Linked DNA regions of Homo sapiens. The protein of the gene in region 1 interacts with the protein of each later gene in a pairwise test. Each region holds a gene or a part of one and is shown on either strand. Other genes may lie near its edges.

Evidence for each region. Proteins that work in one complex are often made in the same cells at the same time.
Region 2: the proteins of RNF125 (region 1) and UBE2U interact in a two-hybrid assay, tested with the Homo sapiens proteins (one large-scale study listed by BioGRID and IntAct).

Annotation. Positions count from the first base shown.
Region 1 is NC_000018.10:32,024,040-32,029,703, reverse strand, and holds part of RNF125 (E3 ubiquitin-protein ligase RNF125), read right to left. Parts: intron 1-5,664. UniProt on the Homo sapiens protein: E3 ubiquitin-protein ligase that mediates ubiquitination and subsequent proteasomal degradation of target proteins, such as RIGI, MAVS/IPS1, IFIH1/MDA5, JAK1 and p53/TP53.
Region 2 is NC_000001.11:64,217,123-64,220,622, reverse strand, and holds part of UBE2U (ubiquitin-conjugating enzyme E2 U), read right to left. Parts: intron 2,613-3,500; exon of another isoform or gene 2,570-2,612; coding exon of another isoform or gene 2,569-2,569; intron 1-2,568. UniProt on the Homo sapiens protein: Catalyzes the covalent attachment of ubiquitin to other proteins.

The DNA.
Region 1 (5,664 bases):
CTTTCTCCCTTGCATCTACTGTTTTCAATCTGACAACAAATGTCTTTGAGTATTTCCTTTGAATGTAAATCATTTTTTTTTTTTGAGGCAGGGTCTCATTCTGTCACCCAAACTGAAGTGCAGTGGTGCAATCACTGCTCACAGCAGCCTCCCGAGCTCAAGTGATCCTCCCACCTCAGCCTCCTGAGTAGCTGGGACTACAGGCATGCCCCACCATGCCCAGCTTTTTTTTTTTTTTTTTCTGTACAGACGAGGTCTCACTTTGTTGCCCAGGCTGGTCTCAAACTCTGGGGTTCAAGCAGTTCCACCTCAGCCTCCCGAAGTGCTGAGATTACAGGCATGAACCACCACACCCAGCCTCCAGACTCCTTTTAAGTTCCATTTATACAGCTCCAAGTTATCTAGTGGCTCTCACCCCAGCTTTCTAATAGAAGATAAGGCAGAAGTGAGAAGGCTCTTCCTTCAAATCTATTTTTTACAACTGATACAGCAATATGAATAAAGTTCACTTAAAATTATAAAACATTAAAGTGAAACTTCTTAAATTAAAGTCCACCAAAGGAAAAAGAACTAAGCTAAAAGTGAGGCTATATGAGACATCTTAGAAATGTCATAGATCAACTTTTCATGGCACAGTGTTCTTCCAAAAGAAATACAGAGATAAGAAATAATATCTGTTCCTGGGGTTTTGCTTATGGAATGACTGAAGGAAAGAGAAACCATGTTTTGAGCCTTTACTATGGGATACTTTTACATTTTAAATATTCATAAAAATGGCACTACTCACCCCATTTTACAAATGAAGAAACAGAGATTCAAAGAGATTAAGCAACTTAGTGGTAAAGAAAATTGGCTGGGCAGGGTGGCTCAACCTGTAATCCCAGCATTTTGGGAGGCTGAGGTGGGCAGATCACTTGAGGCCAGGAGTTTGAAACCAGTCTGGCCAACATAGCAAAACCCCATCTCTACTAAAAAATACAAAAATTAGCCGGGCGTGTTGGCACACACCTGTAGTCCCAGCTACTCAGGAGGTAGAGGTTACAGTGAGCTGAGATCACGCCACAGCACCCCAGCCGGAATAACAGAGCGAGACCCCATCTCAAAAAAAAAAAAAAAAGGAAACAAAATATTTTACCCCCAAAAATAATTATTTGACATACTTCGAGATGGCTATTGAGATGGCCTGCAGAAAGGAAAAACCCTGAAAAGCTGCATGTTGTGGGGGAGAGAAAAGTCTACATTGGTAGAGAAAGTCTACATTGGTGAAATAAATAGGCAGGCTTTCTGAGGTCTCCCCTGCCCAATCTAGGAGATTAACCAAGAGTCTGAAACGTTTGAAGGTCTAACAAAAAAACTTATCATGAACCACTACCTATTATTTTTTTTTTTTTTTTTTTTTTTTTTTTAAGACGGAGTCTCGCTCTGTTGCCCAGGCTGGAGTGCCGTGGTGCAATCTCGGCTCACTGCAAGCTCTGCCTCCCTAGTTCACACCATTCTCCTGCCTCAGCCTCCTGAGTAGCTGGGACTACAGGCACCCGCCACCATGCCCGGCTAATTTTTTGTATTTTTAGTAGAGACGGGGTTTCACCATGTTAGCCAGGATGGTCTCGATCTCCTGACCTCATGATCCGCCCGCCTCAGCCTCCCAAAGTGCTGGGATTACAGGTGTGAGCCACCGCGCCCGGCCGACTACTGCCCATTCTTTCTGAGAGCTTCTACCTGTGAAGTTTCATCTGTATAACAAGAACAGCTTTGCCCCTTATGTTTTTTTTTCCCTCTTATAACTTGTCTTGCCATCTTGCAATCCCCCATTCTTCTGTAACCTCAAGTATAAAAGCATCAAGCATCTGGCCCTTTCTTTCAGTTTTCATATTTTGTATGACTCCCACGCCCATATGCATATTAATAAATGTGTATGCTTTTATCCCATTAATCTGTTATCTGCCTGTTTTATAGACTCAAAGTATCGAATCTTTAGGAGAAAAATTTTTGGTGTTGTGATCAGGATGTAAGTCATTTTGTTCATTCTAGAGCCAATGAATGGGATCTTGGAACAACGGATGAAAAGCCAGCAAAGAAAGGTAAACTCATTTTTTTTTAACCAAGTCAGTTCTCCTCTCCGATCTCTGCCTATAGTGCCTGGTCAAATGTGGATGGTATGAGTCTCTGTGTTTTACCCTTTCTAAATTTGGATCAACAGAGAAAAACATATAAATTAGTTCTTGTATTGGTTTCAATCGCTTTTAAAATAAATGAATGGCTATATTTAAAAGAAAACTTTTTAGAGCTCACATCTTAAATAGCTACCTTATTGGTACCTATGAAAAGATACAAAAGGAATACAGGTTTAGAAACTCCCTCGGCAAGATTTTTGAAAAGTAGAAATCAGATTTAAAACAAAGTTAAAATCCTTTGTACTCAAATTGCATGCTTTAGATTCCTTATGAAATTTGTTAAATTAAAAAAAAAAAAAAAAGACTCCATCCTGTAGTCCAGTGGTAAGGATTCTGCACTTTCACCACTGCAGCCTGGATTCAATTCCCTTTCAGGGAACAAGACCCCAGGAGATGTAAATCCTTTAACTCAGGAAGGAAAAATAAAAGAAATACTTGGAAAAAATTAGTTTGAATTGTTTTGAATTTATATTTGTATGACTTCTTAACCTTTGGGGTACCCATTCATTCTGTAAGCCTCTCATCCAGCTGTTGTTTTCCTCTGTCTTAAACCCTAGAGAATATGGCCAGACAAAAATGTGGGTTGTACCCCATTTGCGGCTGGCAAAACCTTGCTTTCTTTAAGCTGTTGTAGGGAATGATCTGGATTTTGAAAGGGTTGCAACTTTTGCTCCCTCTTAGGAAACCTTGGTTGAAGCCATCAAGAGCTTCTTGGTTTCAGTCTCAAATGTTCTTATTTGTTTTGATTTTGAGTTATTTCCTTTGGTTAAAACGTTGGTTTATATTTAGAGTGTGATAGTAACTTTTTCCCCATTAATCTGCTTCCTCTACGGGGCCAGAGAGACATACCTCCTGCTACAGCTGGGAACCAAACAGGTGAGGAGAGGTGGGTACCCCCTAAAGAGGGGGTGCTGGGAGGGTCTGGGGAAAAAGAAGCATGAAATGCCACAGCTACCATTCTCTCTGCTCCCACAAAAGACTGGGTGCTCAGGCTGGGGACAGTGGTTCACACCTGTAATCCCAGCACTCTGGGAGGCCGAGGCAGGCAGATCACCTGAGGTCAGGAGTTTGAGAGCAACATGGTGAAACCTCTTCTCTACTAAAAATACAAAAATTAGGTGGGTGTGGTGGCACACCCTCGTAGTCCCAGCTACTCGGGATGCTGAGACAGGAGAATTGCTTGAACCCGGGAGGCAGAGGTTGCAGTGAGCCCAGATCGGGCCACTGCACTCTAGCCTGGACGACAGAGCAAGACTACATCTCAAAAAAAAAAAAAAAAAAAAAAAAGACCGGGTGCTCAGAGGACAAAATGTTTGCTGCTTGCATATTTAAAAGGATTTTTTAGGCTGAGGCACGAGAATCGCTTGAACCCAGGAGGCGGAGGTTGCAGTGAGCCAAGATTGCGCTGTTGCACTCCAGCGTGGGCAACAGAGCAAGACTCCATCTCAAAAAAAAAAAAAAAAGTTTTTTTTAAGAAAGATGGCTCTGTGGTCAAAAGCCAGCTTAATTAATAGCTGATATTCTCTGTTCTCTTTCAAATCCTGTTTCTCCCTTGGGAACTTCTTAGTCAACTAGACCTTTTTTTGTTCCTCAGACTCCTACTAACTAAAACTGTATTGGCCTTTTGAAAGCTTAAAATCTCCCCAAATTGGCTCCTCTAAGACTTGTTCTTCCATTTCCTTCCCCTTCTGCCCCTCCTCCTTTTTGCCATTTTTGATACCACATGAAGAGGCCTAGAGGGGACTTCTGTGAACCCTGAGACCCCTTGAGGAACACACACACACACGCATACACAAACACAAAAGCCACCAATCGCCCCTCTTTGGGGGTCCTCTGTCTTCTTTTTTTTTTTTTTTTTTTTTTTTGAGACAGAGTTTCACTCTTGTCACCCAGGCTAGAGTGCAGTGGCGCCATCTCGGCTATTGCAACCTCCACCTCCTGGGTTCAAGTGATTCTCCTGCCTCAGCCTCCTGAGTTGCTGGAATTACAGGTGCCTGCCACCACCCCTGGCTAATTTTCTTGTATTTTTAGAGAAACGGGGTTTCGCCATGTTGGGCAGGCTGGTCTCGAACTCCTGACCTCAGGTGATCCCCCCACCTCAGCCTCCCAAAATGCTGGGATTACAGGCGTGAGCCACCACGCCTGGCCATTGGGGGTCCTCTGTCTTCTCACTGAGCCACAGAAGCCATGGGCAGGGTCCATCCTCTCATGTCTAAAGTTCTGCTCTCCTGCATTAAACTTCCTAATCTCTCTGGCTTTTGGATACTGGTGTGTGCATGTGATATATGTTGTGTCTACATGTATATATATGTTTACACATGAGTTTGTATAGTCTGTAGTACCAAACTGACTTCTAAATAAATGAGTACTCACAAATTAACTATCCCAAATGTTTTTCGAAGTTCATATGACTTTAGTAATCTTTGGTAAATCAAGCTAGGTTTTTTTGTTTGTTTTTGTTTTTTTGAGAACGACTCTCAATCTGTCACCCAGGCTGGAGTGCAGTGGTGCGATCTCAGCTCACTGCAACCTCTGCCTCCTAGGTTCAAGCGATTCTCCCACCTCAGCCTCCATGTGCGCCACCATGCCCGGCTAATTTTTTAGTATTTTCAGTAGGGACAAGGTTTCGCCATGTTGACCAGGCTGGTTTCCAACTCCTGGGCTCAAGTGATCCGCCTGCCTCGGCCTCCCAAAGTGCTGGGATTATAGGTGTGAGCCACTGTGCCCAGCAATAAAGCTAGTTTTAAATTGTTAGTTGGCTGGGTGTGGTGGCTCATGCCTGTAATCCCAGCAGTTTGGGAGTGCTCATGCCTGTAATCCCAGCTCTTTGAGAGGCTAAGGCAGGAGGATCACTTGAGCCTAGGAATTCAAGATTGGCCTGGGCAACATAGGCAGACCCTGTCTCTATAAAAAAATAAAATTTTAGCAGGGTGTGGTGGGGCATGCCTGTTGTTCCAGCTACTCAGGAGGTTGAGGTAGGAGGATTGCTTGAGCCCAGGAATTTGAGGTTGCAGTAGGCTATGATCACATCACTGAGTAGTTTGTTCTTAGATCATATCTCTAAAAACAAACAAATAAAACTACTAGAAATAAGACAAACAATTCTTCAGGCAGAATATACCAAAAAAGCAAGATATGTTCTTGGAGAGAAAGGTTGTAAGAATGGCATGAGGCCGGGTGTGGTGGTGCACGCCTGTAATCCCAGCTACTCAGGAGGCTGAGGCAGGAGAACCTGGGAGGCAGAGGTTGCAATGAGCCAAGATCATGCCACTGCACGCCAGCCTGGGTGACACAGTGAGACTCCATCTTAAAAAAAAAAAGAAAAAAAAAAAAAAAAGAATGGCATGAAGTGTGATTTTTTTGTTAATGGAAAACGAATTGTGTCTAGTTTAGAAGTTATTTGAAGCTTGTTTCAAATTGAAAGAATAAAAAAAGATATAGATAAAACTAAATGAATATAGAAAGTTGGAAATAGAAGAAAAATCGTAAG
Region 2 (3,500 bases), on another chromosome or scaffold:
AGGAGACCAACGAAAAGCAAATGGATTCGCACTTCAGAACCTGTGAAACAGTTCAGGAATTGAATGTGCCAGATACCTCTGGAAGGAGGGGTAAGAGGGAGAGCACAGACAAAAAACTTATACCCTCATCTTGTGCAATCACATGATGACCACTGCTCACGCAAGAAGGAAGATATTTAACCTCTGGAAAAACTGGGCCAGAGAGACTCAGGACTGGAGGACAGTAGAAACAAAACAGGATGGAGTAAGAAACTGAAAATGGAATAAATCATATCGAACAGACAAGATTCCTGATTCTCTCCCCTCGTCCAGCTGTCAGAGTATTAGCAGTGCTCTCTCTCTCTCTTGCTTGCACTTGCTCTCTCTCTCTCTCTCTCTCTCCACAAGCCTGGCAGATTCCTCTCAGGAGAAATAGTTAAGTCTAATGAAATGGCCAGGTTCTCACTGAATAATTCTACAATGAAATAAAACTGTCAACAAGCCCAGCCTGTATTCAGAACTTCCAGTCTTTTTAATAGTCCATTCATCATATGTCCATCATAAGAATGGATAGTCAAAGATCACTAGACATTTGAGCAAGGTCAATACCATAAAAGAGAACAATCCTAACCACAAAAAAAGAGAAAAATAGGAAACAGAAACATTTTTCTCAAAATCTTCCAGAATATACAACGAACAAAGAGATGGATAATAGGAGAAATTTGGTTTTAAAAAATTAGAGGATTGGCTGCACGCAGTGGCTCATGCCTGTAATCCCAGCACTTTGGGAGGCCAAGGCAGGCAGATTATGAGGTCAGGAGATCGAGACCATCCTGGTTAACATGGTGAAACCTCATCTCTACTAAAAAAATACAAAAAAATTAGCCAGGTGTGGTGGCGGGCGCCTGTAGTCCCAGCTACTTGGGAGGCTGAGGCAGGAGAATGGCGTGAACCCAGGAGGTGGAGCTTGCAGTGAGCCCAGATTGCCGCACCACTGCACTCCAGCCTGGCAGCCTGGGAGACAGAGTGAGACTCCGTCTAAAAAAAAAAAAAAAAATTAGAGGATCAGATCAATAGACCCAACATTCAAATCAGAGCAGATCTAGAAGAGTCAATAGGGAAAATGAAGAGAGAAGAAATTATAAAAGATATCACATAAGAAAGTTTTCCAGAACTGAATGATTAGAGATTGAGATTTCAATAGCTTATCAAATGTCCTATGTAATGTGGAGGCAGGGAAGGGGAGGATACACAAAGAAATATTATCAAAAATTTCAAATCACTGGGAATAAAAAGAAGGTTTAAAAAGCTTCCAGAAAAAAAAAGAATAAATCACATGTGAAAAATTGGACATCGGAATGAAATTAGACTTCTCAAGAGCAACACTAGAAACTAAAATGTAGTAAAGTATTTACGATTTGGAAAGAAAACTATTTCCAAACTAAAATTTAACCAAACTATGAGCATATGACAGTAACGTAATTACATTTTTAGGCATGCAAAGTTATAAAAGGTTTAGCTCCCAGGTACTAGGAAGCTCCTAGAAGATGTACTCCAACAAAACAAAGGAGCAAAACCAACCACAAGGAAAATGGGGATTGAGCAGCAAGCAGGAGCTCCAACCCAGCAGGCACCAAAAAGGCCATCCCAGCACACCTGCAAGAGAACTGCCAATTCAGAAATGGAGAGGAAGGATAGAGTGCCACAGGAAAGAGGGCTCCCAAAACAAAACAGACTCGATGCTGACTGAATACCTAGTAGCTGTTTTATAGCTTTGTCAGAAAGTTTAGAAGAAGAAAAGATAGTACACACATAAAAAACAAAGGAATGTAAAATCAGACCTTTTGTACAAGAAAAGAAAGATAATCATTTATGGTTTATCTGTGGCAAGTATTTATAAAGTCATATTAATGTAACCAAATCATATTAGGAGGATGGGGGAGAGGAAATGTGGGTAGCAATAGTAGTATAAAAGCAAAATCTTTGTATTTTATAAGATGAAGTCTATAAATAATATCTAAAACCGAAAAGCCTAGAAATATTAGTATAGAATCAACTTAGAAATGTGGTGGTAAATGCCAGAGGAAACAGCTAAATGTGTTGAAAGCTATTGTTGCCTCTGGCAGGCAGCACTCAGGGATAGAGGACATATTTCATTAAAAACTGATTCCTATTATTTGTCCTCTAAAACTATCAACATATATTTCTTTGATAGAAAATAAATATTTAACATTTCTCGTTAAAACTAGCAACTTAGAAACTTTGCCGAAAAGTTACTGGACTATCTGGTATAATGAAATACAAACAGGAAAAAAGAGGTACGTAACTCGAGCAAATAGATCCACACTCTACCCTGCTGTTAAACTCAGTTTTTTAGTATCTTATGACATTTTTAAGTAACAGAATATCTGTAACAAAACTGTAATCATCAACAACAAAACTGGTTCTGAATGATGGTGCTAAAAAAGCTCATGTTCTTGAACAAGTAAGCAATGCTACTGGACTAAATTTTGTGTTCCCCCGACACCCACAAAGTATATTTCTCAGGGGAAGGGGTATACTTACACCTAACCAAAGAAGTATACTCACTTTAAAAAGAAACGGCAACCTGGAATCCTATGAGACACCACCTGCTTCAATTGTAGAGACAATTTGCTTTAAAATTGCTCTATTATTAAAAGGATTTTTTTAAACCCAGTGAACAAACTGGGAACTTGAATTGGAGAAGAATCAAATGTCTGTCACAACATTTTCTTAATCACAAGCAGAATATGATGTATTTGTAGAATTATCAGGTTTTTAAAAAGTATATCACACAAATTAGTATTACAATCTCCCTAATATTTCTATATTCTCCTTTATTCTAGTATTATGACTCAATGTCAATTATAGCTTATTTAGATGAGCATCTGAAATGTATTAGATGATCCTCCTTTTTTATCAAAAACTATAGGAATATACTTGGCTAAGAAAAAATAATTACCTCAGGCTTAGCTACCATCACTCAGCTTTACTCTTTTTATACTCTTGTATTTTTCTTCAACCAAAGGTTTTAAAAATGACACAAAACTTACATTTTAAAAAATCAAAGCAACTATGACAAACAGAAGATAAATATTACTTGATAATATAACTACATAGAAATCAACATTCACAAGGATGAACTGAAAAAAGGGGCAGATAATTGCTCATATGAAACCTATGAAAGCTCATAACAAATTAGAAAGTAAGTAGCAATACTCAGAATCTATGAGGCAAACAGTTGTTATACATTGTCTCCAGACCTTCCTCCTCTGAGTTTTCATAAACTAGTTGAACAATAGGTTGGAAGGTATTGAAAAGGCCCCCTTATCCAATTCTTGGCGCCAGAGCTTTTTATCAAAGAAGCTCTTTGATAACATCTCTGAAAAATGGTCATTTAGCTCTATCAAATAAACACTAGATACAAAGAATACCTTTAGTAATAGAGAGTTTACTAACTGCCAGCCTGGCCTTGTCCATTCTTTTAAGCAACTTGAATT